Regions from separate parts of the Homo sapiens genome. Here all the other regions are linked to region 3. The links come from fine-mapping of genetic effects on plasma protein levels. A gene starts in region 3. Each other region holds a variant in brackets. All regions are shown on one strand. Distances are from middle to middle.

The links. A credible set is the group of variants that fine-mapping cannot tell apart. PIP is the chance, under the fine-mapping model, that this variant and not a neighbour inherited with it causes the effect. Protein levels are from antibody-based Olink assays in UK Biobank. Linkage for the fine-mapping came from a reference panel and not from the study's own genotypes, which makes the PIPs less certain.
Region 1: its variant is the best candidate, but not a certain one, in a credible set for the plasma level of the CD55 protein (UK Biobank, PIP 0.63).
Region 2: its variant is the best candidate, but not a certain one, in a credible set for the plasma level of the CD55 protein (UK Biobank, PIP 0.52).

Annotation. Positions count from the first base shown.
Region 1 is chr1:207,288,676-207,299,190 of GRCh38, reverse strand. All of the region lies in intron 2 of LINC02942 (long intergenic non-protein coding RNA 2942), which reads right to left. The region is part of intron 1 of LOC107985251 (a long non-coding RNA gene); the gene reads left to right. Among named protein-coding and RNA genes, the nearest start is that of CD55, 28 kb to the left of the region's middle. The variant G/A (reference allele first, on the strand shown) is at 5,937.
Region 2 is chr1:207,256,575-207,267,089 of GRCh38, reverse strand. The region is part of intron 2 of LINC02942 (long intergenic non-protein coding RNA 2942); the gene reads right to left. The region is part of intron 1 of LOC107985251 (a long non-coding RNA gene); the gene reads left to right. Among named protein-coding and RNA genes, the nearest start is that of LINC02942, 22 kb to the right of the region's middle. The variant A/G (reference allele first, on the strand shown) is at 4,652.
Region 3 is chr1:207,316,134-207,326,445 of GRCh38, reverse strand. It overlaps CD55 (CD55 molecule (Cromer blood group)), which reads right to left and starts at 4,768. Exons shown (of 10, transcript NM_000574.5): 1 at 4,581-4,768; 2 at 3,879-4,064; 3 at 1,696-1,887; 4 at 725-824. The coding sequence starts at 4,680. It overlaps LOC107985251 (a long non-coding RNA gene), which reads left to right and starts at 4,317. Exons shown (of 3, transcript XR_007066838.1): 1 at 4,317-4,760. RefSeq lists a silencer at 4,493-4,572 and enhancers at 5,133-5,342, 9,033-9,862.

The DNA of each region.
Region 1 (10,515 bases), 27 kb after region 3:
CAACCACAAAGCACACCAGAGGCATATATGCACTTATGTGCCCACAAATAGAAATATGTGGCTTCCATTGTTAGTATTCTACATGCATTATTTGCTCTCCTTCTAAGGTGTCTATTTTGTCTTCTGAAAGAAGAGTGGAACTCTGAGAGTAAATATTTATCTTGCAAAGCATGATTGGCTTTTTGTAATAATGGAGTAAACAACTCAAAAGAAATGAAGTAAGTCTAAGAGGTGGAAAGCTGTGGTTTTTCTGGCATGAGGAAAGGCTTAAGTATGGAAGAGTTTCAACTGATCAAGCAGCAGTAAGTATGCAGGAACTGGGTACAGTTTGAAGAACGAAAGTACTAATGTGTGAAGATGGAAATCATTATTCAGGCATGAGTATGTTTCAGCAAACATTGCCAAAGCTGTTCTATTGACATTTTAAGCTTGTATTAAAATGCTGCCAATAGAAAAGGAAGGAAGGCATTTCTGCCCAGCTGCGATTTTCATTTTTCTTTGAAACGAGGTTCTCTTATGTCCCCAACACTTCCCAGTCTAGCACAAAGTCCTGAGCTGAGAATCAAGAAATGCGAGTTCTGGTACCAGATCTCACATTAACTAGTAGGCTTACTTTAGGAAAGCCAAAGAATAATAGAATTACAGCCTTAAAAGAAACTTTAAAATTTTCTTAATCCTATGATTTCATTTTATAGCAGCTGTAATGGAGCTGAAACCCATCTGTGCTTTGCTTTTTCCAGTTTGTTGAATGCGTTGATCACTTCCCCTGCCTCTATCACAGAATTGTAGAGAGGTCCAAATGAAACAGGAAGTTTGACTGCATGTTCTCACTTATAAGTGGGAGCTGAACAATGAGAATACATGGACACAGGGAGGGGAATAACACACACTGGTGCTTGGGGGCAGGAGCGGCAATGGGGAGAGAGCATCAGGAAAAAGAGCTGATGCATGCTGGGCTTAATACCTAGGGGATGGGTTGATAGGTGCAGCAAACCACCATGGCACACGTTTACCTATGTAACAAACCAGCACATCCTGCACATGTATCCCAGAACTTAACATAAAAAGAAAGAGGAGGTTTGAGAGTGTCTCACTCTCATAACCTCTTTCTTCACTAAATTGCTTTGCTATTCAATGTTAGTCTTACTGTTTCAGGTTTTTTGTTTTGTTTTTTAATTGTCTAGGCTTGTTTGCTACACTGCATTTGCATACCTTTTGGTCTCACCTTGATTTTGAAGGCAAGAACCTATATTAAGTTGAAAATAAAGAGCCCAAAACATAACATCTGTAGAGCATTTGGTAACAACTGAACTTGACTATGTTGTTACTATACACCAAGTACTAGGCTACTGTGTATAACAATCCTTAGAAGTTGATAGCATTGATCCACCTAAGGAAGCTGAGGGCCAGAGAGGTTGAGGAGCTGCCCAAGAACACACAATTGGAAAGTAGTGGAGTAGGGACCAGACTCAAATTTCTCTGGCACCACAGCCTTTACTTTTCCATGCAAACATGCTTGATTAAGTTAAAATGATTTTGAAATGTTAGGCATAACTATAATAACCATTGCATTTCCCCGAGGGACCTAGGAGATGAGTGCAGGAAAACTCAGGAGAAAGCAAAGAAAGAGTGAGCCTTTTGATAATATTAAAACCAACTGTGAGAGAACTGGAAAATTATTATATATCTCGTAGTCCCTGGGCACTGCACAGGAAATTTCATTCAACCTTATATTCTACTCCTTTCTTTAGCCTAGTTACTGGCCTAAACTATGTTCTCTAGCTTTTTTCTTCATATCCAAATAAGGCATGAATTTGTAAATCACTAAATCCCTTAAATTTTATCACCATCCACGTATCTTCCATTTTATATTCTTCAGATCCTCTTATCTCTTCTGTCCCTCTCTGGCGAGCAGTACCAATGAGCTCAAACAAGAGACTGGCTCTCCAGGCTTGATTCCATAATGAAGGGAAAGCTACAAGCCATGCCCTCAGGGAGCACTTGAATCCTGCTCTCTGTAGTTTCTACACTTTCACTAGGCACTGGCCACCAAGGATACTTGGCATTAAAAACAGCTGTGGCTTTAAATGGCAAATCCTCCAGGAAAAGACTGTGTTTATCCCTTTCTCAGATTTTTCTACAATATTTAGTTCCTTTTTAGTTGTTACTCTTTCAATTGCCCCTTTTTAGAAAAGGTAGAATCCATCTGAACAAAAACTCTAAAGAATATATTCTGAGTAGGTGAACTATGAACCCCCTATGCTTTTGATTCATTTAATACTTATCACTTGTCTACTATGTGCAAAGCTATGCGTAGTGAACTTGGCACTCACACCGATTCTGACTCCCAAATAGACTGTCAGAGAGCTACAACATCACCTACATCTGGACTTTCCCAAACTTCCCTTTCTCCACTTGCTACTTTCTTTTTCTTTTCACCTATGTCCTACACAAATACTGACCACTTTTTAAATCTGGTGGACAGAAAAGCAATCGAAGTTTTGTCATAGAGAGGTATGAAGATATATGACTTATGCTGGAGTATGTTTCACATAATGATATGAATATAGCCATATTTATAGGCTATAAATAAATCCTATTGCATTGACTATAGTTTTCCTAAGAGAGCTAATATATGCTTTTACAAAATCAATTTAAAAATTAATCGTACAAACATTAAGATACATTTTTGTGTGAATATTTTTAATAATTTTGTTTGGAACTCACCTCTGACCAATTCTCATTCATCTAGCCACAAAAATCTTGGCTATTCAGCCTCTTGATGAAAAATCAGGATGTTGGATCGGCATGTGGCAAGCCAGCTACCTCTCATGCCCTCTACCAAAAAGAAAAACAGCCGGGCGCCGTGGCTCACGCCTGTAATCCCAGCACTTTGGGAAGCCAAGGCAGGCAGATCACGAGGTCAGGAGATCGAGACCATTCTGGCTAACACGGTGAAACCCTGTCTCTACTAAAAATACAAAAAAGTAGCCGGGCGTGGTGGCTGGCGCCTGTAGTCCCAGCTACTCGGGAGGCTGAGGCAGGAGAGAGGCGCGAACCCGGGAGGCGGAGCTTGCAGTGAGCCGAGATCGCGTCGCTGCCCTCCAGCCTGGGCGACAGAGCGAGACTCCATCTCAAAAAAAAAAAAAAAGAAAAGAAAAAACATGCTTTAATCTAGGTGTGCTTAGCTGTCTAAAAGTTTGATTTTTGTCCTAAGTCTCTGCTAGTTAGAATTACCTCTAAATAGAGGAATCAATTAGTGTCAAAATCACGTATTACATACTAATGTGGGTTTCGTATTATTGACAGTAAGTAAATTTGAAAAATATAAAGAGAAAAGCTGAGGGAGAAAATCAATCCTAATTGTACCATCAAAAGTGACCACTCAGTATCCTGCTGTATTTCCTCCCAACTTTTTTCTCTCGTTTTTTTTTTTTTACTTAATATTGTGAACATTCTTAAACAAATAAAACCTCTTCTAAAATAGTTGTATAATAGTCTATTTCTAGCTGGTCAGTGATTTATTAATCATTCTTGTTGGATGTTTAAGTTGTTTCCAGTTTTTCACTACTATAAACAAGGCAGAGATGAACATCCTGTATATATATTTCCTAGTATTTAAATTATTTCATTGGTGGATACATCATACACAAAAATTAACTCAAAATGAATTGAAGACTTAAATACAAGACTCGAAACTTTAAAAACATTGGGGAAAAAGAAAAAGAAAACATTGGGGAAAAAGCTTCATGAAATTTGTCTTAGCAATGATTACTTGGACTTGATACCAAAGGAACAGGCAATAAAAGCAAAGATAAACGAGTAGGACTACACCAAATGAAAAAGTTTGTGCACAACAAAAGAAACAACAAAATGAAAATGCAGCCTATGGATGGATTGGAAGAAAATATTTGCAAACTATATATCTGATAGATGGTTAATATCCACAATGCATAAGGAACTCCTATAACTTAATAGCAAAAACAGAACCCAATTTAAAAATGGACAAAGGAACTGAATAGACATTTTTCCAAAGAAAACACACAAATAGCTAACAGGTACATGAAAAGGTGCTCTACATTACTGATCATCAGGGAACCAAAAATCAAAACCACAATGAGATATCACTTTATTCCTATTAGGATGGCTATTTTTAAAACAAAACCAAAAGATAGTAAGTGTTGGCAAGGATGTGGAGAAAAGGAATCCCTTGTACACTGTTGGTGGGAATGTAAATTGGAATGGCCACTGTGGAAAACAGTATGGAGGTTTCTTTAAAAATTCAAAGTAGAACTACCGATGATCCAACAAGCTCACATCTGAATATATATCCAAAGGAATTAAAATCAAGATATTGAAAGGATATCTGCACTGCCACATTCATTTCAGCATTATTCACAAGAGCCAAGACATGAAAGCAACCTAAATGTCCATTGACTGATGAATGGATAAATAAAATGTGGCATATACAAACAATGGAATATTATTCTGCCTTTAAAAAGAAGGAAATGTTGTCATTTTCATCAACATAGATGAACCTGGAGAACATTATGCTAATTGAAATAAGCCAGACACAAAAGGACAAATACTGCATGGTACCACTCATATGAGAAATCTAAAATAGTCAAACTCATAGAGGCATAGGGTAGAAGGATAATTGCCAAGGGCTGGGGGTCATGGGGAAGTATATTAGTCAAGGGTACAAAGTTTCAGGTACTCTGGTTGGTGGAAATGTAAGTACAGGATAAATATACAAGATAAACTCTAGATATTTGTGGTACAGCATAGTGCCTATAGTTAACAATACTGTATTGCATACTTAAAAACTTGCTAATAGGGTAGATCTTATGTTGAGTGATCTTATCACACACGTACAAGTAATAATGATAAAGAGGGTAGGAGGAAACTTTTGGAGATGATGAATATGTTTATGAAATTGATTATGGTGATGACTCCACAGGTATATCCTTCTCTCCAAACTCATCAAGTTGTATATGTTAAATATGTACAACTTTTTGTATGTCAATTCATAACCTCAATATAATAGTCTAAAAATAATTGGAATGGAGTCTCAAATACAAAATTATTACAGCCAAGCCTTTTGATACAAATTTCTATATTGCTTTCCAATATAATTATATCAGCTTGCAATCCTAAGAGAAAAAAAAAATCAGTCTTACCACACCCTCAAATTTATATTCAGTTACTCTATCTGCATAAGAATTTACATTGTTGCCTAAGAATTTATATTTTATCTCATTTCAGGTTCCAGAAACTTAATTCTTAACACAATGTGAGGTACTAATACAAAATGTTTCCAAATAAACAAGCAAACATTTCCTGAGCATCTACTGTGTGTAAAGAACTGTGCCTGGCGTTGTAGAAAATATAGTACAGGTATATGAACTGTATTTGTCCTTATAGTACTTACTCTTCAGTAGGAGAAGTAAAATTATACCTGTCTACCACAGTGTCCACTTTTTGCTCTTTTGTATTAGTTACACAGCTAATACAAAACGGAAAGTAATAAGAGCCATAGAGGAGTTACAAATAGTTTAATGAGAGGGCAGAACAAAGGAAACATTTGATAAGGAGATCCGATATCAGTTGCTTTGGGCCTTATGCTTTTTGTATTAAGAGGAATACAAAATGCTGAAGATAGAGCTTTGGGGCCTTAATATCCCTTTATTGAAGGCTCTGGCAGAAGTAGGACTTTCTTTAGAAATTTTGAATTTTTTTTTTTTTTGAGACAGAGTCTCACTCTGTCACCCATGCTTGTGCACAGTGGCATGATCTCAGCTTACTGCAACCTCTGCTTCCTGGGTTTTCAAGTGATCCTCCTGCCTAAGCCTCCTGAGTAGCTGGGAATACAAGTGTGTACCACTATGCCTGCCTTATTTTTGTATTTTTAGTAGAGATGGAGTTTTGCCATGTTG[G/A]CCAGGCTGTGGATTTCTTTAATGCATTGTACACCATGGAATGAAGTCCTGTGATTATGTTCATTACTGTTCCCACTAGTATAAATACTTACTATGGTGTTTCAAGTAAAATGGATTAACATATCAATGTTCTGCTTGAATCAAATGGTGTTGATTTGATATATATTTTATGTTCTTTCCTTTCTCTATATTTAATAGAGATGAAATTGATCCTTGAGGTGGAGTCAAACAAAGGTAAAGGCTGAGACCTTGGCCTACTAGGATCCCAGCTCTGTGTACATCTAAATGGGACAAAAAGTAAATGAAAGCTTTTCTGGTTTTATCTTAGTGACATTCACTGGTGTATTAGTCCATTTTCATGCTGCTGATAAAGACATACCTGAGACTGGGCAATTTACAAAAGAGGTTTAATGGACTTACAGTTCCACGTGGCTGGGGAGGCCTCACAATCATGACAGAAGGTGAAAGGCATGTCTCACATGGTGGCAGACAAGAGAAGAGAACTTATGCAGGGAAACTCCCCATTTTAAAACCATCAGTTCTCATGAGACTTATCATTATCCCAAGAACAGCACAGGAAAGACCTGCCCCCATGATTCAATTACCCCCCACTGGGTCCCTCCCACCACACGTGGGAATTCAAGATGAGATTTGGGTGGGGTCATAGCCAAACCACATCATTCCACCCCAGCCCCTCCCAAATCTCATGTCCTCACATTTCAAAACCAATCATGTCTTCCCGACAGTCCCCCAGTGTCTTAACTCATTTCAGCATTAACTCAAAAGTCCACAGTTCAGTCTCATCTGAGATAAGGCAAGTACCTTCCACCTATAAGCCTGTAAAATCAAAAGCAAGTTAGTTACTTCCTAGATATAATGGGGGTACAAGCATTGGTTAAATACAGCCATTCCAAATGGGAGAAACTGGCCAAAACAAAGGGGCTACAGGCCCCACACAAGTCTGAAATCCAGTGGGGCATTCAAATCTCAAAGCTCCAAAATGATCTCCTTTGACTCCATGTCCCTCATCCAGGTCATGCTGATGTAAGAGGTGGGTTCCCATGGTCTTGGACAGCTCTGCCTCTGTGGCTTTGCAGGGTACAACCTCCCTCCTGGCTGCTTTCATGGGCTGGTATTGAATGTCTGCAGCTTTTCCAGGCTCTCAATACAAGCTGTCGGTGGATCTACCATTCTGGGGTCTAGCAGACTGTGGCCCTCTTCTCACAGCTCCATAGGTGGTGCTCCAGTAGGAACTCTGTGTGGGGGCTCTGACCCCACATTTCCCTTCGACACTGCCCTAGCAGAGGTTCTCCATGAGAGCCCCACCCCTGCAGCAAACTTCTGCCTGGACATCCAGGCACTTCCATACATCCTCTGAAAATCAGGCAGAGGTTCCTTTGGGAACCCCCAATTCTTGACTTCTATGCACTGGCAGGCTCAACACCACATGGAAGCTGCCAAGGCTTGAGGCTTGCACACTCTGAAGCCATGGCCTGAGCTCTGTGTTGGCCCCTTTCAGCCATGGCTGGAGTGACTCGGACACAGGGCATCAAGTCCCTAGGGGGCCTACAGCACAGGGACCCTGGGCCCAGCCCACGAAACCACTTTTTCCTCCTAGACCACCAGGCCTGTAATGGAATGGGCTGCTGTGAAGACCTCTGACATGCCTTAGAGACATTTTCCCCATTGTCTTGGGGATTAACATTCAGCTCCTCATTACTTATGCAAATTTCTGCAGCCTGCTTAGATTTCTTCTTAGAAATGGGATTTTCTTTTCTATCACATTGTCAGGCTGCAAGTTTTCCAAACTTTTATGCTCTGTTTCCCTTTTAAAACTGAATGCCTTTAGCAGTACCCAACTCGCCTCTTGAATGTTTTGCTGCTTTGAAATTTCTGCTGCCAGATACCCTAAATCATCTCTCTCAAGTTCAAAGTTCCACAAATCTCTCGTGCAGGGGCAAAATGCTGCCAGTCTCTTTGCTAAAACATAACAAGAGTCACCTTTGCTCCAGTTCCCAACAAGTTCCTCATTTCTGTTTGGGACCACCTTAGCCTGGACTTTATTGTCCATATCACTATCAGCATTTGGGGCAGGCAAAGTCATTCAACGAGTCTCTAGGAAGTTCCAAACTTTCCCACATTTTCCTGTCTTCTTCTAAGCCCTCCAAACTATTCCAACCTCCGCCTGTTACCCAGTTCCAAAGTTGCTTCCACATTTTTGAGTATCTACAGCAGCACCCCACTCTACCAGTACCAATTTACTGTATTAGTCTGTTTTCACACCGCTGGTAAAGACATACCTGAGACCTGGCAATTTACAAGAGAAAGAGGTTTAATGGACTTACAGTTCCATGTGGCTGGGGAGGCCTCACAATCATGGCAGAAGGTGAAAGGGACATCTCACATAGCAGCAGACAAGAGAAGAAAGCTTGTGCAAGGAAACTCCCCTTTTTAAAACCATCAGATCTCAGGAGACTTATTCACTATCCTGAGAACAGCATGGGAAAGACCTACCCCCATGATTCAATTACCTCCTACTGGGTCCCTCACATAACACAGGGGAATTCAAGATGAGATTTGGGTGGGGACACAGCCAAGCCATATCAACTGGTGCCTCTTTTTACTTCCAGTGATCTAGAGATGTTTACTATGTTAGTTGCTAACCACATGTAGCTATTTAAATTTATTTTTAAATTAAGAAAAATTAAGCAAAATTTAAAATATAGTTTCTCAGTTGCTCTGGCCATGTTTCCATTTCTCAATGACTCATGTGGCTAGTGACTACTATGTAGGACAGAGCACATATATGACATTCCATCATTGCAGCGTTCTAATGGACAGTGCTGATCCAGGTGTCAGGGAGTTATGTAAGCTCAAGAAAATTGTGAGGTAGTTACATAGGCTCAAGAAAATTGATTGTGCAGTTGGCCAGGATTTACAAATGTTGTAATTATATGTTAAGACCCAGTTTTCTAGGGATGAGAGAAGGTGAAGTGGCTCTCCTGCTTTCTAGATGACTCTTTGAACATCAACTATTTACAGAACATCTTCTATAAAAAATGATCTAGAATAAAGGCAAAGAAAAGGGAAACCTTGAACATTAATGTGTAAATCTGTAAAGGTGTTTTAGTTATAGATAGCATAATCATATGTCCCAATTTACCTGGGTGGTCCCAGTTTGCACCAGTTTTCTTTGCATAATTATTAAGAGTCCTCTTTTTCATTCTTAAAGTGTTCTAGTATGGATAATAAATTATATGGTCATGGTACTTATAGTCTCATTTCCTCCTTCCTCATTGAAGCTATGTAGATAAGCAAAACAAAAGCCTTCTAAATGCTGATTTCCATCCAATAACCAGCTTTGCCTAAGTCACATTCAGGGGTATGTGCTCACAGACTGTGAGGTTGTTCCCCACATGTAGAGAGCCAACTTACTGTAGCAGAGTTCCAGCCAACATACTTGGACTTCTGTTTTTCTCTTTCTTAAGGATGAACTATCAGAGGCAACACTGTTTTACTACAGCATAGAAATATATGAATGACTTAGGGAGAAATAAACTACATCAAATGCTTGCATGCATGTATTTCCTGCATTAACAGGTTTTCATGACTTAATGAGGAAAGAAGGTCTTGGCCTTGAAAGAAACACAGAAACAAATATTTAGTGGAAAAAGAACTGATCTGGAAGACAAAATATGTGAGCTTCTTGCTAGTTTAGCCATCATGTGAACTTGGATTTCCCCTTTTTATGTCTTGTCCCTCTGCACTTCAGTTTTCTAGAGGGAAAGGTGTGATATAAATTTAAAGCATTCTTCACTTGAGCTCATTAGAACTTCTGAACTTTCAGCTCCTTAAATGTACCAGTTCCTGGCCTTTGCATATGCATTGTTTTTCATTCTTCAGGACTTTGTGTGAGTACCACTTCTTCATGGATGTCTTCTCTGATCCCCTGAATTAGGTCAAGTGACCCCATGATCTTTATACCTTTTCATCAAAGCACTGAGCTTTGATTTCCTATTTACTTGTCCAAATTCCCCACAAGATTTTAAGTTCAGTGAGAATAAAAGCCATGTGTACTTAATTCACTTTATATGCCCAGTCCTACAGAATCCACATAGTTGATGCTCAGTTTTATTAATAAATGAATAAGCAAGCCTGTGTGCAAGACTTTGTATCCAAGAATATGGAGCCAAGTAAAACCTGATTCTTATCCCGACAAAGTAAGGCCGAACTAGAATGTCTGTAATACAAGACAAAGTAAGTTTCACAAAAGAGGTGCAAAAGATGCTGTAGGAATTTGAGGATAAATGACAGCACAACAGAGATAAGAAAAGGCTTCTGAAGAGATGGAGCATTTGAAATCAGCCTTAAAGAAAAGCTAAAACTTCAATAGGCAGAGATTGTTACTATGCAGTTAACATTCAATTTATTGTCAACCTACTATGTATAGGAATTGTTTTAGGCACTAAGCTAGTAGTAAGAAGACAAATAAGACATGGTTCCTGCCTTAGAACAGTCAGTGATCTAACTGGGAAACATATAGATGTACGAAAAACTATGGTATAAGAGAAAATATATT
Region 2 (10,515 bases), 59 kb after region 3:
TCCATCATAAATAATGCTGCAGTGAATGTGGAAGCACTGATATTTCTACAAAGTGCTGATTTCCTTTTGTTTGGGTATATATACCCAGCATAGGGATTGCCTGGTCATATAGTAGTTCTAGTTTTAATTTTTTGAGGAAAATCTATGTTTTTTTTCATAACGGCTATACCAATTTACATTCACACCAATAGTGTCTAAGGGTTCTCTGTTCTCCATATTCTCTCCAACACTTATTCCTTGACTTTTTTATAATGGCCATCCTAACAGGGGTGAAGTGATAATCTCATTGTGGTTTTGATTTGCAGTTCCCTGAAGACTAGTGATACTGAGTACCTTTTCATATAACTGTTGGCCATTCATATGCCCTCTTTGGAAAAATGTCTACTTCATTCCTTTGCCCATTTTTAAATTGAATTATTGAGGGTTTTTTGCTATTGAGGTGTGTGAGTCCCTTATATGTTTGGATATTAACCCTTTGTTAGATATATGGTTTGCAAATATTTTCTCCCTGTCTGCAGGCTGCCTTTTCATTTTGTTATTTCTTTCGCTATGCAGAATCTTTTTAGTTTGATGTAATCCTACTTGTTTATTTTTGCTTTTGTCACTGTGCTTTTGGGGTGATGGCCAAAAGTCATTTCCAAGACCAGTATCAAAGAGCTCTTCCCATGTTTTCTTCTAGGAGTTTTAAATAAAAACAGAGAGTAGAACAGTGGTTACCAGGGGTAAGGAGGGGGAGGAAATAGAGGTATGTCAAAGGGTACAAATTTGCAGTTAAATTGGATGATAAGTCTAGAGCTCTAAAATACAGTATGGAGACTATGGTTAATAATATTGTATTGTATACTGAAAATTTGCTAACAGAATAGATTTTAGGTGCTCTTAGCACACATAGGTAACTATGGAAAGTGATGAATATTTACATTTGTTTGACTGTAGTAGTTATTTCACTGTGTATATGTACATCCAAGCACCATGTTGTACCCATTAAATATATAAATAAATAAGAATCTTGATATAAATTTTGAGCCGTGGAAAGAGAATTTATACCAGTGGCAAGGTGGCCCTGGAAGTAGAATGAACTATGCCTGGAAAAGCTTGAAGTTTAAAGTTAGAGGTGACCATTTAGTAAAAGGTCTCTAGAGGTACACCAAATATACATTTTGTCCTAATAGCAGATGGCCAAGTATTAAAGCATAGTATTTTCTCAAAGTAGAAGATGAGGTTTACAATAGTATCATGAAATGCACTGCAGGAAGAAAATTAGAAGTTTCACCCAAAATAGTTTAATAATTATTACAAATATATTATGAAAGTTTAATATTCAAATTTTAAAAGTTTTATATTCTCATGCAGAAACAGGAATTTATTAGCACTGCCAGCTGCTTGATTGCTTTTATGATTGCTATACCACTTATTTACGATACTCTATAAACCCTCACTTTCAACTGAGGTGAGAGGAAGAGCTAGCTATTCAGCTGTGGCTTCATTTTTCCTTAATAATTTCTTTATTTCTTTATACATATTATAATAATGTATTATATTCAGATTGATGACAATTTATCATGATTGTGACATATGATTTGGAAGTTTTTCCTTTGTCAAATTTTGAGGTGATAATATTTGACATTCTCTTTTCCATTCTGCTTTGATGAATCCCTGTAGAACTAGTTTCTAAAAGCATAGTAGCCTAAATTAAGTAAAATACAGCTATTAGAGCTCATTATGTTTAATACAATGAATGCCAGCATATAAAAAATTCTGTAAAAGTTATCACTTTGATATCTAATCTATTACTCTGTGTCGTATAATTAATTTTTAACAAGCAACACTTTTATTGATACATACATTAGCCAGGGTTCTCCAGAGGGACAGAACTAATAGGATATATGTATATCTGGAAGGGAGTTTACATATGCCTAATGTTCCATTATTGGAATGCTAAGCATGTGGGAGTTATTTATATCCTTGAGCACAAGGTCATCACCAAGGTCTGATTTTTCACACAAAAAAATTGCAACCTCAGGCATAAATGGGTTAAGTAGAATTGACTCACATGATCACAAGGCAAAGTCTCACGATAGGCCGTCTGCAAGCTGGGGAAGAAAGACATCAGTAGTGGTTCAGTCTGAGTCCAAAAGCCTCAAAAGCAGGGAAGCCAATAGTGCAGCCTTCAGTCTGTGGCTGAAGGCCTGAGAGACCCTGGCAAACCACTGGTGTTAAGTCCAAGAGTCCAAAGGCCAAAGAACCTGGAATCTAATGTCCAAGGGCAGGAGGAATGGAAGGAAGCATCCAGCAGGGGAGAAAGATGAAAGCCAGAAGGCTCAGCAAGCCAGCTTATATCCCACCTTCTTCCGCCTGCTGTGTTCTAGCCATTCTGGCAGCCAGATTGGATGGTGCCCACCCACATTGAGAGTGTGTCTCCCTCTCCCAGTCCACTGACTCAAATGTCAGTCTCCTCTGGCAATACCTTTATAGACACACCCAGAAACAATACTTTACCAGCTATCTAGGCATCCTTCAATCCAATCCAGTTGACACCAAATATTAACCATCACAATACATAACAATTATACATATTTATGGGATACATGTGATATTTTGATACATGCATACAATGTGTAATCGTCAAATCAGGGTATTTAGGATATCCCTCACCTCAAACATTTATCATTTCTTTGGGTTGGGAACATTTTAAATCTTCTCTTTTAGCTATTTTGAAATATACAAGAAATTATTGTTAAGTGTTCTCACCCTACTGTGCTATGGAACACTAGAACTTATTCCTTCTGTCTAACTGTGTATTTGTGCCCATTAACCAACCTCCCTATATTCTTCTCCCGGACCTTTTCCAATGTGTAGTAACTATTGTTCTACTCTCTACTTCCATGAGTTCAACTTCTTAGTTTCCACCTATGAGTGAGAACATGCAACATTTATCTTTCTGTGCCTGGCTCATTTCACTTCACATAATGAACACCAGTTCCATTCAGTGTTGCTGTAAAGGACAGGATTTCATTCTTTTTATGGCTGAATAATATTCCATTGTGTACATATAGCACATATACCACATATTCTTTTTTTTTTTTTTTTTTTCAGGTGGAGTTTTGCTCTTGTTGCCCAGGCTGCAGTGCAATGGCAATGGCGCAATCTCGGCTCACCACAACCTCTGCCTCCTGGGTTTAAGCAATTCTCCTGCCTCAGCCTCCCGAGTTGCTGGGATTACAGGTATGTGCCACCACGCCAGGCTAATTTTTGTATTTTTTAGTAGAGACAGGGTTTCTCCATGTTGACTGGTCTCGAACTCCTGACCTCAGGTGATCCACCAGTCTTGTCATCCCAAAGTGCTGGGATTACAGGTGTGAGCCACTGTGCCCGGCCACCACATATTATTTATTCATTTATTCATCTGTTGGTGGTCTCTTAGGTTGATTCTATCTCTTTGCTATCATGAACAGTGCTGTAATAAATATGGAGGTGCCAGTATCCCTTTGATATACTGATTTCCTTTCTTTTGGATAAATACCCAGTAGTGGGATTGCTGTATCATATGGTAGCTCTATTTTTAATTTTTTAAGAAACCTTTATAATGTTTTTTATAATGGCTATACTAATTTACATTTCCAACAGCAGTGTATAAGAGTTCCCTTTTCAACCAGGCACGGTGGCTCACGCCTGTAATCACAGCACTTTTGGAGGCCCAGGCGGGTGGATAATGAGGTCAGGAGATCAAGACTGTCTTGGCCAACATGGTGAACCCCTATCTCTACTAAAATACAAAAAATTAGCTGGGTGTGGTGGTGCATCTTTGTAATCCCAGCTACTTGGGAGGCTGAGACAGGAGAATCGCTTGAACCCAGAAGGCGGAGGTTGCAGTGAGCTGAGATTGTGCCACTGCACTCCAGCCTGTCAACAGAGCAAGACTCCATCTAAAAAAAAAAAAAAAAAGAGTTCCCTTTTCTCTGCATCCTTGCCAACATCTGTTATTTTTTGACTTTTTAATAATAGTCATTTAAAGTGGGTGAGATAATATCTCATTGTGGTTTTGATTTGCATTTCTCTGATGCTTAGTGGTGTTGAGCATTTGTTCATATAACTGCTGGCCATTTGTATGTCTTTTTTTTTTTTTTTTTTTTTTGAGATGGAGTCTCACTTTGTCACCCAGGCTGGAGTGCAGTGGCGCAATCTTGGCTTACTGCAACCTCCACTTTCTGGGTTCAAGTGATTCTCCTGCCTCAGCCTCCCAAGTAGCTGGGATTACAGGTGCCCACCACCACGCCCAGCTAATTTTTGTATTTTTAGTAGAGACGGGTTTCACCATGTTGGCCAGGCTGGTCTCGAACTCCTAGCCTCAGGTGATCCGCCCACCTTGGCCTCCCAAAGTGCTGAGATTACAGGCGTGAGCCACCATGCCTGGTCCATTTGTATGTCTTCTTTTGATAAGTACTTATTCAGATCTTTTGCCTATTTCTTAATGGGATTATTTCAGGAGGTTTTGCTGTTCTTTGTATTTGTGTTCTTTGTATTGATGTTTTTGTGTTTTCTGGATACTAGTCCTCTGTTGGATGAATAATATTATCTCTCATTCTACAAGTTGTCTCTTCACTCCGTTGATTTTTTCTTTTGCTGTGTAGAAGCTTTTTAGTTAGATTAA[A/G]TCCCATTTGTCTATTTTTGTTTTTGCTGCCTGTACTTTGAGGTTCTTTGAGGTTACAAATTCTTTGCCTAGGCCAATATCCAGGAGACTTTTCCCTAGATTTTCTTTTAGTATTTTTATAGATTTTGGTCTTACATTTAAGTCTTTAATCCATTTTGAGTTGATTCTTTAATATGGTGAGAGATAGGTATTCAGTTTCATTCTTCTGCATGTGGCAATCCAGTTTACCCAGCACCATTTAGTAAAGAGGATGTCTTTTCCCCAGTGTAAATTCTTGTCAGCTTTGTCAAAGATGAGTTAGCTGCAAATATGTGGCTTTATTTCTGGGTTCTCTATTCTCTTCCACAGGTCTATTTTTATACCAACACCATGCTGTTTTTGTTACTATAGCCTTGTATTATATTTTGAAATCAGATAACATGATGCCTCAAGCTTTGTTCTTTTTGCTCAGGATTGCTTTGGCTACTAGGGCTCTTTTTTAGTTCCATGTGAATTTTAGATTGTTGTTGCTATTTCTGTGAAGAATATCACTGATATTTATTGCTCGGGTTTCACTGAATCTTTAGATTACTTTGTGCAGTATGGTGATTTTGACAATATTAATTCTTCCAATTCATGAGCTTGGGATGTTTTTCCAATTCTTTGTGTCATCAATTTCTTCCATCAATGTGTTTTGTAATTTTTCTTATAGATGTCTTTCACCTCCTTAGTTACATTTATTCCTAGGTATTTTATTTTTTTGTTGCAATTGTAAATGGTTTCTTGACTTCCTTTTCAGCTAGTTTGATATTGTTGTATAGAAATGCTACAGGTATTTGTATGTTGACATGTACAATTATTTAATTTTATTAGATGTTTGTTGGCAGAAAAATTATGTTTTTCTTAATGTTCTCTAAATAATGCACTATTGATATTTATATTAACTGTGAAACAATTTTCCTATTATTTAAATATTAAAAAGTTTTTTTGCACATACAATAAATAGCTTTAACAGTCATCATTAATCATAGTAGTGTACATATAGGACATATTTATAGTAATACAAATATCATATATTTATTCATCAACTGACAGAATCTTAATATAAAGCACATAAGGAGACTTCTCACTCTGTGCCACATCTAGAATATATACTTAGATTCTTTGAAAAGGTTCACTAGTAACTCTAAATCTGAAGGGCTTTTTCTTTTTTTTTAGACGGAGTCTCTCTCTTGTCGCTCAGGCTGGAGTGCAGTGACGTGATCTCAGCTCACTGCAACCTCCACCTCTTGGGTTCAAGCAATTCTCCTGCCTCAGCCTCCTGAGTAGCTGGGATTACGGGCACTCGCCACCATGCCCAACTAATTTTTGTACTTTTAGTAGAGACAGGGTTTTGCCATGTTGTCCAGGCTGGTCTTAAACTCCTGATCTCAGGTGATCTGCCCGTCTCGGCCTCCGAAAGTGCTGGGATTACAGGTGTGAGCCACCGTGCCTGGCCTAAATGACATTTTTAATGTCATTGTTATTCTGATTAGAAGTGATTAGATATGACAGTCAGGAATGTCAGAAATTACATTGCAAGGGAAGTAGGGGGAGACTGATGAACAGAAGTTGGTTAAGGGATACAAAAATACGATTGATAGAAGGAGTAATTTCTGGTATTTGATAGTTAGCTATAATTTATTGTATATTTCCAAATAGCTAGAAGAGAACTGTAATGTTTTCAACACAAAGATAAATGTTTAAGGTGATAGATATCCCAATTACAATGATTGAATAATTACACATTATATACATGTGTCAAAATATTACATGCACCCCCAAATGTGTACAACCATAGTATAGCAATAAAAAATTAAAAATTAGATCTGGAAAGAGGGGAGGAGCAAGATAGTTGAATAGACATCTCCACTGATTGTCCCTCCTACAGAAGCACCAAATTTAACACTATCTACACAATAAAAGCATCTTCGTGAGAACCAAAAACTAGGTGAACACTCACAGTACCTGGTTTTAACTTCCTACTGCTGACAGAGGCACCAAAGACAATAGGAAAGACAGTCTTGAATTGCTGACACCACTACCCCATACCCTGGCAGTGGCCACATGAGGCAGAGAGAGAATCTGTGTGCTTGGGAGAGGGAGAATGCAGCAACTGTGAGACTTTGCATTGACCTCAGTGCTCCCCTGTCACAGCGAAAAGCAAAATAAGGCTGAACTCAGCAGATGCCCACCTATAGAGGAAGCAGTTTGAGGAGCCCTCACCAGATGGGAATCACCCATCCCAGTAGTTGGAATTTGAGTTCCAGCAAGCTTTGCCACCACAGGCTAAAGTGCTTTGAGGCCTAAATAAACTTGAAATGTAATCTGGGCCACAAGGACTGCAACTCCAAGGCAAGTCCTAGTTCTGAGCTGGGCTCAGAGCCCGTGGAACTGGGGGGCATGTGACCTACTGGGACATCAGCCAGGGCAGCCAGGGCTTGTGCTACCCCTCCCCAAACCTCAGACAGCACAGCTCGTGGCTCCAAAAGAGACCTCTTGCTTTTGCTTGAGGAGAAGAAGGGCAAGAGTAATAAGGACTTTGTCTTGCATCTTGGATACAAGTTCAGCTACAGTAAGATAGGGTACCAGTCAGAATTGTGAAGCCCCCACTCGAGGCTCTAGCTCCTGGATGACATTTCTAGACATACCCTGGGCCAGAAGGGAAACTGCTGCCTTGAAGAGAAGGACCCAGTTCCAGCAGTACCTCATCACCTGCTGACTAAAGAGGCTTGGGCCCTGAATAATCAGTAGTGAGACCCAGGTAGTACACTCTGGGCCTTGGGTAAGATTCTGAGACATGCTGGCTTCAAGTGAGACCCAGCACATTCCCAGTTGTTGTGGCTATGGAATGACTCCTCCTGCTGGAGAAAAGCAGAAGGAAAAGTAAAGGGGACTTTGTCTTGTACCTTACATACCAGCTCAACCACAGGGGCAAACCATCAAGCAGGCTCTTGGGGGTCCCTATTTCCAGGCCTTGGCTCTTGGATGGCATTTCTGGACATTCCCTGGACCAGAGTGGAGCCCACTTCCCTGAAAAGTGAGTCCCAGGCCTGGCGGCATTCACCACAAGCTAACTGAAGAGTCCTTGTGCCTTTAGTGAACATTGGTGGTAGCCTGGCAGGACTCACTGTGGGCCTGTGGTGGTGGTAGCCGTGGAATGAAGCTCCTCTGCCTATGGAAAGGGGAGAGAAGAATGGGAAGGACTGGGTCTTGTGGTTTGAGTGTCAGCTCAGCTGCAGGACAATAGAATACCAAGTAGATTCCTAAGGTTTTCAACTCCAGTCCCTGACTCCTAGATGCCATCTCTATACCTACCAAGGGTGTCGAAAACTTGCTTCCCTGAAGAGAAGGACACAAGCCTGGCTGGAGTCATCACCTGCTGATTGTAGAGCCCTAGAGCCTTCACCAAACATAGGCAGTAGAAAGGTAGTCATTACAGTGAGCCTTGGGCGAGACCTAGTGCTGTGATGGCTTCAGGCCTGACCCAGCACAGTAGTGATGGTGGCCATGGAGGTGCTTGTGTCACCTTAATCCCAGCTCCAGACAGCTCAGCATGGAAAGAGAGAGGCCCTGTTTGTTTGGGAGAAAATAAGAAAAGAGAACAGGTAATCCAGAGAATCTTCCAGATCTTATCCAAGACCACCAAGGTGGTACCTCTATGAGTCTGCAATAACTACAGTATTAGTGGATTTGGGGTCCCCCTTAATGCAGACATGGCTTAGGTTACACCACCCAAGTCCTTTTGAATATCTCAAAAGCCTTCCCAAGGACAGGCACAAACAAGCCCAGAATGCAAAGACTTCAATAAATACCTAACTCTTCAATTTCCAGAAATTGGCAAACATCCACAAGCATCCAGACCATCCATGAAAACATGGTTTTACAAAATGAACTAAGTAAGTTACCAGGGACTGATTCTGGAGAAACAGAGATATGTGACCTTTCAGGAAAAGTTTTCAAAATACCTGTTTTGAGGAATCCCAAAGAAATTACAGAAAACACAAAGAAGGAATTCAGAATTCTGTCAGATAAATTTAACCAAGATATAGAAATAATTAAAAAGAATTAGGAAGAAATTCTGGAGTTGAAAAATGCAGTTGACAATGAAGAATGTATCAGAATCTTTTAACAGAAGAATAGATCAAGCAAAAGAAAGAATTAGTGAGCTTGCAGACAGCCTACTTGAAAATACACAGTCAGAGGAGAAAAAGAATAACAAAAAGCAAAGCACACCTACAAGATCTAGAAAATAGCTTCAAAAGGGCAAATCTGAGAGTTATTGGCCTTAAGAGGTAGAGAAAGAGATAAGAGTAGGACATTTATTCAAAGGGATAAGAATAGAGAAATTTTCAAGCCTAGAGAAACGTATTAATATCAAAGTACAAAAAAGTTATAGAACACCAAGCAGATTTAACTCAAAGAAGACTATCTCAAGGCATTTAATAATCAAACTCCCAAAGGTCAAGGATAAAGAAAGGAACCTAAAAGCTGCAAGAGGAAAGAAACAAATGATATACAGTGGAGCTCCAATATGTCTGGCAGCAGACTTTTCAGTGAAAACCTTACAGGCCAGAAGAGAGTGGCATGACATATTTAAAGTGCTGAAGGAAAACAACTTTTACCCTAGAATAGTATATCTGGCAAAAGTATCCTTCAAACATGAAGAGATGTAAAGACTTTCCCAGAGAAACAAAAGCTGAGGGATTTCATCAACACCAGGCCTGTCCTATAAGAAATGCTAAAGGGAACACTTCATCCAGAAAGAAAGGGACATTATGAATAGTAAGAAACCATCTGAAAGCACAAAACTCACTGGTAGTAGTAAGTACACAGAAAAACACAGTATGATAACACTGTAACTGTGGTATGTAAACAAGTCTTATCTTAAGTAGAAGACTAAAAGATGAACCAATCAAAAATAATAACTACAACTTTTCAATACGTAGTGCAATAAGATATAAATAGAGACAACACGAAGTTAAAAAGCAGGGCACAAAGTTAAAAAACAGAGTTTCTATTAGTTTTCTTTTTGCTTGTTTATTTATGCAAACAGTGTTAAGATGTTATCAACTTAAAATAATGGGATATAAGACAGTATTTGCAAGCCTCATGGCAACCTATAATAAAAAAAATACAATGTATACACCAAAAATAAAAAGCAGGAAATTACATCATACCACCAGAGAAAATCATCTTCACTAAAAGGAAGACAGAAAAGAAGGAAAAAAGAAAGAGAAGTCCACAAAACAACCAGAAAACAAATTTTTTAAAAGGCAGAAGTAAGTCCTTACTTATCAATAATAATATTGAATGTAAATGGACTAAACTCTCCAGTAAAAAGACAGAGTATCAGAATGGATGAAAAAAAGAGGATTCGATGATCTGTTGCACACAAGAAACCCATTTCACCTAAAAAGACACATATAGACTGAAAATAAGGGGATGGAAAAAGATATTCTGTGGTGATGGAAACCAAAAAAGAGCAAGAGTAGCTATACTCATATCAGACAAAATAGATTGCAAGACAAAAACATGGAATGCAGCAAAAGTATTAAGAGGAAAGTTTATAACAATAAGTGGCCCCACCCCCACCCAAATCTCATCTTCAATTGTAGTTTCCATAATTCCCATATGTCATGGGAGGGACACAGCAAGAGGTAATTTAATGATGGGGGCAGTTCCCCCATGCTGTTCTCATGATAGTGAGTTCTCACAAGATCTGATGGTTTTATAAGGGGATTTTCCCCCTTTGCTCAGCACTTTTTCCTGCTGCCATGTAAAGAAGGGTGTATCTACATCCCCTTCTGCCGTGATTGTAAGTTTCCTGAGGCCTCCCCAGCCAT
Region 3 (10,312 bases):
TTCTAAATATGGGCTTCACAGAATAATAGAATGTACTTATATTTAAAGGGTTCAAAGTACTTCCCAGATTTTGTGTTCATGACCTAACCAATATCTGTGTTTCGTATAGGAGACAAGTGATACTGATATTTTTACTTTATAAAGAATAGGGACACACACAGAGTAAAATAGAATTATTTAATTTACAGATATGAAATGAGAAAATAAATGTAAAGTTTTCAACAGTGTCTGAGACATTGATGGTACTCAATGAATGAGTTCCTTCTCCCTATACAGAGAACTTATCAAAGAACTTAGAATACTTTCACACTAGGAATGTCTTTAACTCATGCTGTTTTGTAACAGCTTGTTTGCATATAGAAAAACTCATGCAAATTCATTATTTAGGTCAACTAAAGATTGGTTTAGTATTTAACATTTGAAGATTTCTGCAAGTATCATCATCTCAAATTTTTTTATTAATCACATTTAAAATTTTATATTGAATCACATATTTACTGAAATCAGAATTTAGAGAATTCTGGTGGTTTAAGAAATCTTCCTTTCTTGCCCCCATTTTACTAAATTTAACTGTGATGAGCTCATGATGAAGGGTCTTTGAGGAGAGGGATTGTTTTAATTGCTACTAGCTGTGAATACCAGTCATGAAACTAACAATCTCACCTTAAGTCCTAATTTGTTTTCTCATTTCCTAAATACAGGGTTTTAGTATGCCCAAACTTACCCTGTGTTACATGAGAAGGAGATGGTTGCACCAAATAATATGCCACCTGGTACATCAATCTGACCATTTCGTATTTCTCCCGGATTAGGGCATGATTTCTCTAGAATAGAATACAAATTGATTTTTTAAAATTAAATTATCAGGCATACACACAAAGAAGGTAACTATGTGAGGTGGTAGATATGTTAATTAGCTTGACTGTGTTAATCATTTCACAATGTGCACATATATCAAAACATCATGTTGTACACCTAAGATAATATTTGTCGATTATACCTCAATAAAGCTCAGGTAAAAATTTTGAAAAAATTATCAAGCACATATATGTAAATTCATCATCTGAACCATTGATATTTCTTATCCTTAGACTTTTTTTTTTTTTTTTTTGAGATGGAGTTTTGCTCTGTTGCCCAGGCTGGAGCGCGGTGACATAATCTCAGCTCACTGCAACCTCTGCCTCCCAGGTTCAAGGGATTCTCCTGCCTCAGCCTTCCAAGAAGCTGGGATTACAGGCATGCGCCACCACACCCAGCTAGTTTTTGTATTTTTAGTAGAGTCAGGGTTTCATCATGTTGGCCAGGCTACTCTCAATCTCCTGACCTCAAGTGGTCCACCTGCCTCTGTCTCCCAAAGTGCTGGGATTACAGGTATGAGCCACCATGCCTGACCCTTAGACTTCTTTAATTCTAATTTCTCTTTATAATAAGTTTTGAAAAAGCAACGAATTTAGAATATATACTTGTTTTATTTTAGGTAACCTCAAACTAATTAAATGTGAAATTTTTGAATGAATAAGTATTCCTACCACATAAATATTTAGTCTAATTCAAAATAAATTGACACTCATGGTCCTATCAAGAAACATCCTATATAATAATATATACACATAGAGTTCTAGCATGAATGAAGGAAGGGATACTATTTCCCCCAAACACCAGATGGTTGAAAATACTTTAAAAAATTTTACTCACTTTTACAAAATTCGACTGCTGTGGACCATTTTAAATTCTGAAGGCAAGTTAGTTTTGGTGATAGAGAAGGTTCTCTTCTGTAACCTGGACGGCACTCATATTCCACAACAGTACCGACTGGAAAATAATTCTGAGTGATATAAGGCTGTTTGAGGGATGCAGAATTTAGCCTTGTTGGCACCTCGCAGCTACCTAAAAGTATTAACAAAAGCAGCAACAAAAAATGTAGTATCAATTTTTGTTTTATAATCTATATTTAATTATCTGGACCCTAATAACCCCCTTTCTTTACTGCTTTGCGCATATTTAGTACTTAACTATATTAATATCACCATGGCACTTGCAATGTAGCAAATGTATTCACATGTATACTTTGTTTCCTAGTTACTAGAGGCTTAGGAAGTAGAGTTGGTACACACATATCACTATCCCCACTTAAAAAAAAAAAAAAATTTAAGTTGCCTGGCCCAGTTCTGGCATTCAATAAATGTTGGTTTCCTTACCCTGCCCTAAAGAACTACACAGCACCATACAGTACAGGAATAGGGTATTTCCAGACCCCTGGACTAATGTCCTGCACAACAATAATAGCAGCTAATATTTATTTACGTACAAACTCATTTAATTCCCATGAGCCCTGGGGGCAAGGATGAGTCAATTGTATACATAAAGTATTTACACCTGTAAACAGATTGCCCACAAATTGTATACATAAAGTATTTACATCTGTAAACAGATTGCCCACAAATGTGAATCTAGAGAGGCATGGTCAAGTGGAAGGGTCATCATTGGATTTGTAGTCAGAAGACCCAAGTTTACACCTTGGTTTTGGCGTAAAAGCTGCTGCTCTTGAGGAAGTTATTAAACTACTGGGGTCTGTCTCCTCCGCCATAAAAAGAGTGTAAGAGCCCCAACTTACCTCATAAGGTTGTTTGGAGGATTGGATAAAGTAATAACATGGGGAAGAGTTAAAACATGATACATGTGCAAAGACTATGTACTTCATCCTACTGCCTCTATTGTGGATAAAAATAAAAAGTTAAAGCCTATTTCACGCATGGCTTCTAAAGGTATTTGTGCCAATTTCTGTATTTACAGTAGCTTCTATTGATTTAAGTTGTTCAAAGTCAGGTTATCGGGTCTCTTTATCTTTATCTCTACTCATATATCTCAAAGCTAATACAGGGCTATGTAAGTAACAGATTTTTTTCCTCCAAGATAATGCCAATATATATTTTATGAAATCAAAGGGCACATAAGGTGTGGATGACTGTATGTATATTCACCTAAAACAAGAAATCTTCATTTCTTTTAATTCTACTAGGTATCAGTATCAAACACGGTTACTGTGTTAGCCCCCAAACAACTCTTCACTGGGCCTCTTATTCATTTTTAACAATCAACCTATCTACCTGTCTATATCCCAGTTTATACATCTCTCTCTCCCTATATATATCTCTCTCCCTATATATATATATCTCCCTATATATATATATCTCTCCCTATATATATCTCCTTATATATATCCCAATTATATATCTCCTTATATATATATATCCCAATTATATATATCTCTCTCCCTATATATATATCCCAATTTATATATATACATATATTTTTTCAAAGTAGCAAGAAGAGAAGATTTGGAATATTCTCCACACAAACACCAAGTGTTTGAGGTACTGGCTATCCAATTACCCTGATTGATCATGACACACTGTATGCATGTGCCAGAATATCACATGTACCCTATAAATATGTACAAGTATAACAGATTTTGAAGTAAATATTGAGAGCTTTTAAAAATGCCACCACAGAGTTGTATTTGGTAAGTCCTACTTTATAAAATACTTAAGAAAACATATCATTTACGCTATGTGTCTCAAGGCAATTGCCAAATATATTTTATATGTTTACTCCCTAAACAATACCTATTGTTTATTTTCTCTACTAGTTCGTTCAAGAGGTACAGTGTTAGGAAGAAAAACTCTTAATGAAGCAGCAGGACCTACTCAGGGTGGTAAATGTCTTCAATTAGCTGGAGTGTGACGTGCCAACAGGGTATACCCTGGGGTTTAGTAACGCTAGAGAACTATCAATTACTAGTCACTCCAAAGGTATATAAAAATAAATTTAAGATACATTCCATTCCCAGAACTTTTCTAAAAAGATGAAGAACTTACGATTGCAGAACTCTTCAATATCTGACCATTGACTGCCCTTAAGGCAGATCACTGAGTCCTTCTCGCCAGGAATTTTCACAAAGCTTTCTTCACATTTGTACGTTATTACAGTATCCTCGGGAAAACTTGTACGGCCTTCCAAAGCTGGCTGGGCATTAGGTACATCTGGGGGAAGGCCACAGTCACCTAGGGAGACAAAAGCAGAACTGAAGGAAATGACTATCAAGTGTCCTCACAGTTGCTGTTTTCAAGACACAAGCCCCCTTGAAATGCCACACCTGAAAGAGATGACATGCAAGTTTGCAGCATCGTGTGCTCCACACGGCTGGACTCTGTCGAGAGTGGGGAACGGTCAGCGGTCTGGCCTCCCATCCTTTTAGACCAGCTTTTTGGGGGTTAAGGATACAGTCTCTTTGAGCCCTCCCTTTCGATTTTGCCAGGCTTGGCTGCTCCGCAAACCCAGCCGGGGCCTCTTTAACCCTCCACGCCGACCCCTAAAGCCAAGTCAGCTGGGGGCCGACACAGCAGGAGCCCCAAATGCTGGTGAGCGGCGAGAGCCTTAAAGGCACAGGACGGCGGGAACCACGACCGCGGGCCAAGCTCCCCACCTGCCAAGTCGCCGGCCCCTGTGCGTGTCTCAGAGACCGACTTGGACCTCCCACCCAGCCCAGGGGCTTCCCCGGCCGCCGGGCCCCTACTCACCCCACACGGCCGGCAGGCACAACAGCACCAGCAGCAGCAGCCGGGGCAGCTCCCCGAGGAGGGGCAGCGCCGCGGGCACGCTCGGCCGCGCGACGGTCATGGCGCGCCGGGTTAGAACAAGGACGCGCCGCCGGGACTCCGCCGAGTCGCAGCTACGCCCAGCGGCCGGAGCGAGTTGCAGTAAGCAGAAGCCTCGTGGCTCCGCAATACCAGTTAAATGAGTGCTTTGGGCGGGGTCTGGGCTGGGGCTCTGCGTCACCAAGGGTGGGACAAACAAGACGGGTGGAGTAGGGGTTTGTTGTGGTCAGAGGTGCGGTCAGAGGGCTCCGGCGTCATACGCCCCGGGGGCCCTAGACTCGGGGAGAGTGGGGAGGGGAAGGAGGAGGAGCTCGCTGGCAACACCCTCTGGGACTCACTCTCTCCACTGCTGGGTGGGGCCTGCGATGACCTGCCTTCTAGAAACCTAAATATCTCCTCGCTACGTAAACACAAACGGGGTGTAAACGGGAGAGGGGGAGGGGTGCTCAAGTATCGCAGGCCTTGCTGCCCGCACGTGAGTTCGTCTAAGCGGAGCATCCCCGCGCTTGAGTGCTGCCAAGGGGACCTGCAGGTGCGGTGGAGTTCGGGGGCTGAGACTCAGGCGCTGAGACGCGGTGCTCTACCCGCGTCTTGGGCCCTCTACTGGGAGGTCTGTCAAAGGCCAGCACGAGGGTGGGGAAATAACTAAGGAGGAAGGGCGTCATCTCCTAGAACACTCTCTAATGTGAAAACAGAGACCTGGGGAAACAGGTTGAATAACACAGTAGGGAGTGAACATTGTTCATGCCTTGTTCGGGTGGGAGTCATTTTCTTCACCCGGGTTCTCCTTATTTACGAAAGACACCACTTTGGGATTACTCCAGACTGACTGTAGAGAGAAATTCACCAGTGTGCGTGTGTGTATGTGTGTGTGTGTGTGTGTGTGTGTGTGTGCGCGCGCGCGCGCGCGCCTCGGGGCGGTGTGGGGTGGGATAACAATAAAAACAAACAGACCCCAAAACGCTGAATGGTGGTGGGGTGGATTTTAAGAGGAAGGCTTGTTACAAACCCTTTAGAATAAATAGCCTGAGGTTTGCAAGACTGGCCACACATTAGAATCACGTGGGGAGCTTATATATATATTTATATTTATATATTCATATATATTTATACATATATAAATATATATTCTTTAAGTTCTGGAATACATGTGCAGAACATGCAGGTTTGTTACATAGGTATACACGTGCCATGGTGGTTTGCTGCACCCATCAACCCAACATCTACATTAGGTATTTCTCCTAATGCTATCCCTCCCCTAACCCCCACCCTCCAACAGGCCCCCGTGTGTGATGTTCCCCTCCCTGTGTCTGTGTATTCTCATTGTTCAACTCCCACTTATGAGTAAGAACATGCAGTGTTTGGTTTTCTGGTCTTATGTTAGTTTGCTGAGGTTGATGGTTTCCAGCTTCATCCATGTCCCTGCATAGGACATGAACTCATCCTTTTTTATGGCTGTGTAGTATTCTATGGTGTATATGTGCCACATTTTCTTTATCCAGTCTATCATTGATGGGTATATGGGTTGGTTCCAATCCAGAGGCCCAAACTGCACCTTAGACAAATTAAATCAGCATCTTTGGGGATGGGACTGGGTATCAGGATTACTTAAAGTGCCACACTGTGCAGCCAGGTTTGAGAACCACAGACCTATATGGTACTGGTCAGAGTAAAGATCTATCCAGCTTAGGACCACCCCTGTCGAAAACAGAAAGGATATAGATGGCAAGGTGGGTTGCCCTTCTTCATAGAGAATAGCCTCAAGAACATGCTTCCCTGTAATAATTTATCTGGGTCTGGCTAGCAGAGTCCTAGCCTAGATTCCTTTTCCCTTAAATGCCTTACCTCGTTAAGTGAAATTCCCTACTTGGAATTATACTTTGGTCTATGGACCAGCTGTGGGGGTATTTGTTATATCCTATCATTATATTCTTTCCTGAAGGTTTTCTGATAGCTCTTTCCTGGTTGGTATGAGCTTTTTGAGGAGGAAAACAGCAATTTTTCAATCATAGCATTTTCTTTGACCCATACCTACTGTATAGAACCAAACCTTGTGTTGCCCATTGCTGGAGCCAATCCTACAGTGATTCCAAGCAAGGGACTACTGTAGGATTTCACTGAAACCTAACAATATTCGAACATTGTGGAGTTTAGAAGTTATGGTGGGGGGCTTTTAAAACCATCTAGTGTCATCCTCATATTTGATGTTAAAATATCTAACCTTTACTCCCATATTGGATATAAAAACACAAGGTATGTTAGGTCCTGGCAGTGTTTAGAAGTGGCATGAGGTCTTCATTTATTCCCCCAATAACCTCCAGTAACCTTAACCACCACTCCCTTCTGTCCTGCCATTAGAGATAGGTAATCTTCATTCCTGCTTGGGCTCACAGAATTGGTGTGAAAGGCAAGGTAGCATTATGAAAAAGACAGGTTCAAGCAAGACCAGTTATGCAGCTGTTAGAAGACTTAACATTGAAGTCTGTTAAAGCTCTCTACATGTTTATTATGTGAATGTCATAGCTTTATATGGAGAGAAAACAATGAGCTCTGCAAAGTGTCAAAAATATTATCTCTATCACACAGCTCAGTGACACTAAATGTCCTAAGCATTCACCTTCCAGCATACTTAGTTATTGGCAATAACTTTTTTTAAAAGGAAATTTTGGCCGGGCGTGGTGGCTCACGCCTGTAATCTCAGCACTTTGGGAGGCCAAGGCAGGAGGATCACCTGAGGTCAGGAGTTCCAGACTAGCCTGGCCAACATGGTGAAACCCCGTCTCTACTAAAAATACAAAAATTGGCTGGGCGTTGTGGCAGGTGCCTGTAATCCCAGCTACTTGGGAGGCTGAGGCGGGAGAATCACTTGAACCTGGGAGGCGGAGGTTGCAGTGAGCCAAGATCGCGCCATTGCACTCCAGCCTGGGGGACGAGAGCAAAACTCCGTCTCAAAAAAAAAAAAAGAAAAGAAATTTTACGAACAATTACTGGATAGAGTCTTAAGTAATAGTTACAATCAGCCAAATTTCAACATTCTGAGGGGAAGGAAACAAAGAAATCCACTATGTATTTACTCAATTTAGAAAAGAGATCTATGATAAAATCTAAGCATTCCTCAGAAAAAAGCAAATATGTGAATTTATAACTTACTAAAGATTATTTTAAATAAATGGCCTCATTTGTTGTGTTCCAGTTGCTTTATACACATTATACCATTTCACCAACACAACTTCATGAAGTGAAGATAACTATCCATATTTTGCAGACAAGGAAACAGGCTGAGAGGCTGTTTACCAAAGCCCATGCACTAACTAGCGACCAGGTCAGAATCTAAACCTAGTTTGATTCCAAAACCTGTACTTCTCCTGTCCTGCCGTACTACATTCTTTTTATTGGAATGAGCAAAAATTTCTTGTATGCAGAGGATGATGAATTAGGTACTTGGGGAGGTGATTTGGGAACCCAGGGGCTTATGATATGAGAAGTAGTTCCAAGGCTTCATACTTATCTACCAGAAACTATCAGTGTGTCCTCAGCTGAGTCACTGCACCTCTCAAGGGCTTATTTCTGCATTGATTAAATAGCATTTGGCACTAAAATAGTCTCTATAGACCTTCCAATCCAAAACAAGCTTATGTAATTAAGTCAAAATACAAAGAAAATAGGTTTATGATTTTGACAGAGCAAGGGACCACGGTTCTTACTCTTATCCCAGGAACCATACAATGACTAAATCAAAGACTGTTTAATAAACTTCCCTAGTATACAGAAACCCACTAAGTGTCAATACTTGTGTTTGAGAATCTACAATCTAGTAGGGAGGTTTTCCATGATAAATGCTATACAAATATCACAACCAAAGTGGTATGGGGCTTCAGAAAGGAAAGAAGGGAGTGTGGTAATTGGAGCGGGGAAGGCTAAAGGCCCAGTGATTCAACTAAATATGACAAGTGTCAATGCAATAGGGCAAAAATAGGAAAAGAGATGAGATACGAACAAAGGTTTGGGGTCAGTCCTGTTGATTCCAGGAATAGTAAGGAGTTTAGTTTAGGGAGAGTATGGAGAACTGAATTGAGGCAATGGCAATGGAACAAGAGGGTAAGAGAGGCTGGAAAGAGATTTGAGAGAGCCTTAAAGGCAAGGCCTGTGCCTTTTACACCATTCAGAAGCATTAAAGGACGGTTGACACTTGTAAGGAGGAAGCACCTGGGTAATTTGGAATTTGCATCTAAGATGCTGGAATGGGAATGGCTGTGTAAGCAAAGATCCAATTTAGCTAATTACAACAGTCCAGGTGTTTAGAGAACAAAAATGTCTTTTAGTTTTAAAATTAATAAATCTATATTAAGGAGTTCCAGTCCTGTTGCTCTGTAAAACTCCTGACACAATTATTATAGACTTTTGAATTTCCATTCCTGCTCTGACCAAACAAGTTTCAAAGTAATAAGCCACAGAATTTGGCAACTGATTAGATAAGGAACAGTGGGGAAAAAGATGTTGAAGAGGACTCGGAAGTTTGGAGTTTGTGAGATTAGCAGCCCTATTTAAAAGAACTATCCATATTCAGCTTTACACTTGTTGAATTTCAAATGCCTTGGCAGAGTGTCTACGTGGAAATGTCCAGCATGCGATTGAAACGGAGGCAAGATTGAGGTGGAGTGGGTAGAGATGTGACTGCAGGCAAGGTTTGAACCAAGGGAGCATAGCATGTGGAAATAGAGAAGCCCAAGGTGTGAGACTTGAGGAGCCCCACGTTAGAAAGTACAAATGACAGAGAAAGGGAAAGGAGAAGGTAGTGGAAAGGAAAGAGGATTGTGCAATTTCTTGAAAGCCAAGGAATACAAAACTGTGAGCAAATATTATCACCCTCATTGCAAGTGAACCAGCTGGTGTTTAGGGAAGTTAAGAAACTAGCCCCAAACCACATGGCTTGCTGGCAGTAGAACTAGTGCTTAGGATCTTAACACCTCTGTTAGACTGGCCAGGCAACATTCCTCCAGAAAATCTCCCTTGCCATTGCATCATACCTGGTACCTTCCTCTATGCTACCAAAGTATGTAATGTGCCTATCTATGCCTCACATCTGAGGAACCAGTCTATTTCATATTTACATTCTAACTCAGCCTAAATTTATTGCCAACTTATCTTAAAATAGCCAATGGGCGGGGGGTGGGGGTTGGGGGGAGCTTTATATTGAGGCATTTTTGTCATGCAGCTGCAAATACAGGTAATTCTGCTTCACAGAATAAGGGTATTTTTTAATAAATGAAAACAAATGAGTGGACTCTCCCATTTCTTATACATGAGTTCTTCAGGAATTCACTAATCAAGGTATCAGTGTATTGCAGCAGACATAGTAGTTTTTTTTTCACTAGGTGCAGGTTCAGCAGGACCTGGGAAAAAGTGGTCTAATTCCATGTGACATGTTCACCTATGAAATGGCATCCTGCCCTGCAGCTGACTTCCCTGTGTGTGTGAGAACAGGCTCAGCAGCCAGGGGGAAATGCAATGCTTGACTTATGTGAGCAAATATTTATTTGCCAAGATCTAACTTTCTGAGACAACAGTGAATTTTTGCTACCTCCACTTTGGAGGTAGGGGCAGGAACAAGAAAATGTGTGTGTGCACACATGTGAGACTGTGTTCATGTGTGA